Linked DNA regions of Homo sapiens. The protein of the gene in region 1 interacts with the protein of each later gene in a pairwise test. Each region holds a gene or a part of one and is shown on either strand. Other genes may lie near its edges.

The links.
Region 2: the proteins of RWDD4 (region 1) and ZNF330 interact in binary tests that used the Homo sapiens proteins (3 or more experiments, as listed by UniProt).

Annotation. Positions count from the first base shown.
Region 1 is NC_000004.12:183,645,375-183,649,210, forward strand, and holds part of RWDD4 (RWD domain-containing protein 4), read right to left. Parts: intron 1,164-3,836; coding exon 1,114-1,163; intron 980-1,113; coding exon 977-979; intron 1-976.
Region 2 is NC_000004.12:141,230,725-141,233,211, forward strand, and holds part of ZNF330 (zinc finger protein 330), read left to right. Parts: intron 1-714; coding exon 715-761; intron 762-1,800; coding exon 1,801-1,918; intron 1,919-2,487.

The DNA.
Region 1 (3,836 bases):
GCAGCAAAATTCAAAATGAAAGCAAACAATTTTAAACAGAAACAGAGCATTGTTCTTGGTATGATGAACAACCACGTTTAAGGTCTGTCCTTAAAAAAACCCACAAAAGCCAAGGCCAGGTGTGGTGGCTGCCGCCGGCAATCCCAGCACGTTGTGAGGCCGAGGTAGCAGGATCACCTAAGCCCAGGAGGTCGAGAACAGCCTGGGCAACATATCTGTCTCTGCAAAAAAAAAAAAAAAAAAAATTAGCCAGGCATGGTGGCACATGCCTTTGATCCCAGCTAGTCAGGAGGCTGAGGATCACTTAAGCCTGGGAGGTCCAAGGCTGCAGTGGGCTGTGATTATGCCACCAGCTAGCCTGGGTGACAGGGCAAGATCCTGTCTCAAAAACAAAAAACAAAAACCAAAAACTTAAAAGTAATTTCTACTAAGAAAGTAAAACATTCTTTTCCACATCTGGTTTTCTTCAGTTTCCATATATTGTTGATAACTTGGAGTCATATTTAAGAATCTGCGTTATCTTTTCTTTTCTTTTTCTGTTTTTTTGAGATGGAGTCTCACTCTGTCGCCCAGGCTGGAGTGCAGTGGCACGATCTCAGCTTACTGCAACCTCCGCCTCCTGGGTTCAAGCGAATTCTCGTGCCTCAGCCTCCTGAGTAGTTGGGACTACAGGCGTGCGCCACCATGCCCAGCTCATTTTTGTATTTTTAGTATAGACAGGGTTTCACCATGTTGGCCAAGCTAGTCTCGAACTCCTGACCTCAGGTGATCCAACCACCTTGACCTCCAAAAGTGCTGGGATTACAGGTGTGAGCCACTGTCCCCTAAGTATCTGCATTCTTAAGATGTGCTTACATAGTCATACTATATTGTAGTTTTAACTTCTGCAAATTTTCCATTACTTAAAAAAAAAAAAGATCTAAAATTGAGAGTGCAGGGAAAAGAAGAATGTAAAAGGTATTTCAAAAATACTTACATGCTGAATGTAAAAAAGGAAACAGACATCCCAGTGAATTCCAAAGGTTGTGAAGGGGAAAACAAAAAATAAGAATTTCATTATTTGCTGGTAATAATTGTAACAAGTTTAAAGACTAGAATATAAATGTTATATACCTTCACAACATCAACCCAGTTCCAGCCTCGAGGAAGTTCTCCTTTGTGATCTAGAAGATAAAAAATAGTAACTTTATTTCTAAGACCAACCAGCTAGTTTTATAATAATTAAGATTTTATATACTACTGTACACAACAAATAGGTTAAAAATTTAAATGACATATTACTAAGTTGGAAAAAGAGTTTATCATTATGAATCGATACTGTTCTCCTAGGAATACTTGCAAAATATTTTAGGTATACTCCTTTTTTACATTTATGATATTGCTATCCAAGACAAAACCTGATAATGAGGAAAAAATATAGAGATGGGTTGGTAATGCCAGGAAAAGCAGTTAATCCATTTATTAGTTTCATGCATTTGCATGAAGCTACTGCTTTATATAAGAGGTCATTGCTTATTTAAGTAATAAGTTGTATTGTTCTGTTTAATAAATTAGCATTTCGCACCCAGAAGCTAGGCTCAAGACAGGAGGACTCACAAATATATGTCTGGCCTGGCTTCAAGACTAAAAGAAGGGCTGGCTAACTTATGTATTAGTTGCTGTGATCTGATAACATATTCATTATTTAATCTAACATTCTTTAAAAAGGGCTTTAATCTGTTGGGATTGCTTGGAAACTAGCTTATAATTCATAGTCTGCAAAGTGCTTTTATTATTTTAACAGAATATTCAAATTTAAAGAATAGCTTAACAAATATTATCTAAAAATTCTTCAATTTAAAATGGCTTGATTTCCTTTATGCTTGATGTATGCCATGCATGTCTCCACTTTATGAAACCTTAAAAATTTAAACTCAAAACAAGTACATTATATGAATTTTCCAGCTAGGGAAAAAGAAATTAACCCATGATACTTACAGGAGAGAAGCAATATTACTGGAGCTCAATTTTAGATGCTATCGGTTCTTTTCTCTTTCATGCCAAGAAGAATCGTATCCCCCTGGTTACTGGTTATAGGGGGCACATCACCAATTTTGGTTAACTAAAACTTAGCCACAGTGCCGTGGCTGTCCCATTAAAATTTTATTTAGAATGAAAGCTCCAAGTCACAAACTCGTATACTGTCATTATGGGAAGGTAATGGCTTTAGGTGGGCATCATCAAAGAGATGAAGGTAGGGAGCTATTAATGAAATAGAGTGATCACAGGTCATTATGTATGAAAGCAATATTACCTAACTGACATAGATGCTACAATATTCAAAGAGAGATAAACCAAATTCTAGACAACAAACTGTAATGGCTAACAACTTACTGCTTCAGTTGTTTTTAGAGTTTAATGCTGCTCTGACATTAGGTAGAATGAATTCTTAGATTTTTTTATTTCACAAACCATTACCATTTCAAAAATGTATTTTGGAAACAAACACAGAGTTGCTATTTGCCACAGACAGACATTAAACAAAACATAAACCACAAAAAAACTGCCATTCCATTACAGAAGAAAGGACATTTAAAAGGCCCTCACCAGGCCGGATGCGGTGGCTCAAGCCCGTAATCCCAGCACTTTGGGAGGCCGAGGCTGGCAGATCACGAGGTCAAGAGATCGAGACCAGCCTGCCCAATATGGTGAAACCCTGTCTCTACAAAAAATAACAAAAATTAGCCAGGCATAGTGACATGCGCCAGTAGTCTCAGCTACTCGGGAGGCTGAGGCAGGAGAATTGCCTGAACCCAGGAGGCGGAGGTTGCAGTGATCGCGCCACTGCACTCCAGCCTGGGCAACAGAGCGAGACTCCGTCTCAAAAGAAAAAAGAAAAAAAAAAAAAAAGGCCCTCACCAAAATAAAAGGGTCGGTTCTTCTCAATAAAGAGAAACTTTTTAACCTGACATAGTAGCACACGCATAGATACATACATAAGTGTAAATGTGCAAGTACACAAATGACGTCCTCATTTTCCCTAACTGTGAAAAAGTTTACAGACTGTTATCAATTTGCAAGTTTTCAGGTTAAATAAAGAAAAGCAATCAAATATTATTGTTGATATGAGCTAGAGTTTATTATCTTCTTCTAAAGAACTCTTGTTTAGAACATATGAGAATTCTATTCTTAAATATTATTGTTGTATAATTAACTACAGGCAAAAATGTTAAATTACTTATCACACTAAGACCTAATGGTATACTGGTATCCATTTCAAATGAAAACTGTATTTCAAAAAATTTTTAATAACACACAGCTACTAAAGAGGTAAACAAATCCCAAACATGTTAGAGCTCCAGGTAGAACATGTTTTTGTAGACTATTTAAATGCTCCTCAATCTCTAGACTCATTTATAGTTACTTTGCCACTCGGTTACCTTTTTTTTTCAAATGGTGACCTCTTGTGATGAAGTAGTAGTAAATATTTTCTTTTTTTTTTCTTTTTTTGAGACAGAGTTTTGCTGTTGTTGCCCAGGCTGAAGTGCAGTGGCACAGTCTCGGCTTGCTGCAACGGCTGCCTCCTGGGTTCAAGCAATTCTCCTGCCTCAGCCTCTCGAAATATTTTCAGTATACATATGTGACCCAAAAGGTCAGTGACCCAAAAGTTCACTGGCCCAAATGTTCCAAGAAGAAAGAGTAAGAATTAATCTAAATATATCCACCATATCACACTAAGAAGCAATCCATTTATCTGGGTTATAAAAGAAAAAAAAACGGCTGGGCGTGGTGGCTCACGCCTGTAATCCCAGCACTTTGGGAGGCAGAGGCAGGTGGATCACCTGAGGTCAGGAGTT
Region 2 (2,487 bases), about 42 Mb from region 1:
AGATGTCCAGGCCTCATCCCTGGAGATTCTATCTTTTAAGTCCGTGGTGGGTGCCAGGCACCTGTATTTAACCTATACACAAAATTCTCACGTATTTTCCAGTTGAGAGCCAGCATTGCTGACTGGGTAATAGTATCATCTTTACACATAGTTTTTTTCTTGGAAGGTTCATTGAAATGAGACACCATATAAAACAATAGCATGTGGTACTTGGCATTTAAAAAGCCCTTTTTAAATAGTAGTTACTATTATAGGAAAAAGACCGAAATTCCCCAGGTATTCTCTTCCTTTAATTTGGTTCTTGTTCTGGTATGAAATCCTAATTATTATACTTATTTATAAATTTAAAGTAGATAAGTCATCTCTGTGATATACATACAACATACATACTACACACACATAGACACACAATGTGTATGCATGTGTATATAATTCTTGCAATATTTATATATAAAATTCTCAGATTAAAAGAGCATCTCGAAGTATATAGCATTTTTGAGCCTTTCGTCGCCTTTTGCAGAATGTATAATAATAAATTTAATTATTTTATTTGCAGCATGGGAGCTTTGTGTGTTTTATAGCATTTGAACCCAAAAGACAGGCAGCTGTCTATAAGGCTATATTCCATTGCAAGCTTTTAGTGATTTGATAAAAGACAAAAGAAAATTCTAAGAACCAAATAACGGGATTTTAAAATTAATCTATTTCCCACAGGTGTTTCATGCAATCGGCTTGGTCAGCACTCATGTCTCCGTTGTAAGGTATACCAATGCGTTTTTTTCTTTTTAGATTTTGTTTTTAATCTCTATACCCCTCCACCAGTCCTTGGCTTATATGCAGCTATAATTAATTTATAAGGGACCTTAAAATTATGTAGTCTAATTCTTTTATTTTTGAGACTGTGGAATTGAAGTTGAGAAAGCTTACATGACTTTCCAATGGTCATCCAGTCACCTTTTAGTAGAGCTGTGGCTAGTGCACATTTCTCTGGAATCCTGGCTCTGTGTTTTTAGTGGAGAACATTCTGACCAAGATGATGAGAGTCTATTTTAATTAATGTCAAAATATACCTGCTTAGAAGAGTTTGGGTAAAGATTTCCAAATTTTTCTGTGTCCTTAGGCCTAGTCTCTAGCATTCGTTCGTCAAAGATTACTAAACAGATGCAGCCAATGCCCTTCCTCTCAGAAGCGTTTCTCTAGTTCTTATATTCCTAACCCTATGTCTTATTTATCTTCCAACTCTGTTCTAGTTTTACCAAATGGTGTTCAGGCATTATCTGTGTTTTCTTTGTCTGGAATACTTTTCCATCTTGGCTTACCCTATTGCCCTCCCATTCTTCATATGGCTATTAAGACTTCGTGTCTCTAAGATGCCTTTCCCAAATCCCATGTCTGCTTTAGTGCCCTTCCCTCTGCACTTCCCGTTCAGTGCTTAGTGTCTTGTAATTGCCTTTTCACTGTCTCCATCCCTAGTTAGACCATACACTGTGTGAGAGTAAATAGGCTGTTCACCATTATTTCATTTCATCAGGGACCTTATGAGTACTGAAATATTTGTGAACAGCTAAATGTACTTACATGTCATACTCAATATAGTCTGCCTTTTGTTAGATCATTGTTCAGAAGGGTCCTGACAAAAACCATTTCTGTTAAGAAAATGAAATGAGAAGTGTGACTGCTCCCAACAAAATTGTTAATCTCACTGCCTTAATAAAGCTATATCTTTAAAACACTGAATACTGTCTTTTTGTATATTTTTACATTTTTATTTATTTACTTTATTTTGCTTCTCCTATACAGGCTTGTTTCTGTGATGATCATACAAGGAGCAAAGTGTTTAAGCAAGAAAAAGGAAAACAGCCTCCTTGTCCTAAATGTGGGCATGAAACTCAGGAGACTAAGGACCTTAGCATGTCAAGTAAGGCCCTTAAGATACTAAGGAAGTGATTTTTGCTTTCATACTTAGACAAAGTTTATCTTTTTTTTTTTTGGTCTATTTTTCTTATTGCCTCTTCTTATTTGAAAAGATGAATGTGTTCTTTTAAGCAAGTGGAATTTTACAGCTTAGGAAAATATGTGGGTAAAGTTTTTCAGTTTTACTTAAATAGACCAATATTCATTTTGATATTTGGTATTTGCCTTAGTTAATGACAGCAAATACTGAAATTTAAGATAAAGAGTGATTTTTTTTTATTTTTGTTGAGTCTTCCTTGTTAAATAGTTGAGTAGCTATAATTCCTTAATATTAAAGTGGTGGTAATTTTAAGTACCTAGAAGTCAAATTCACTCTGAAGCTATCTTAGGTGTGTGATATTTGAGCACCTATGTTTATTTATGTAATATAGCACTACTATAGGAAATTATTTTATGGTTTTTATGTAACTTTTTTTGTGAAGGAATAAGCATGCTTATAGTAATGCAGCTCGCAATTTTGTTAAAGAGAAGTTTGACTCTTAACCAAACATATCAGAATGGAACCATAATTCT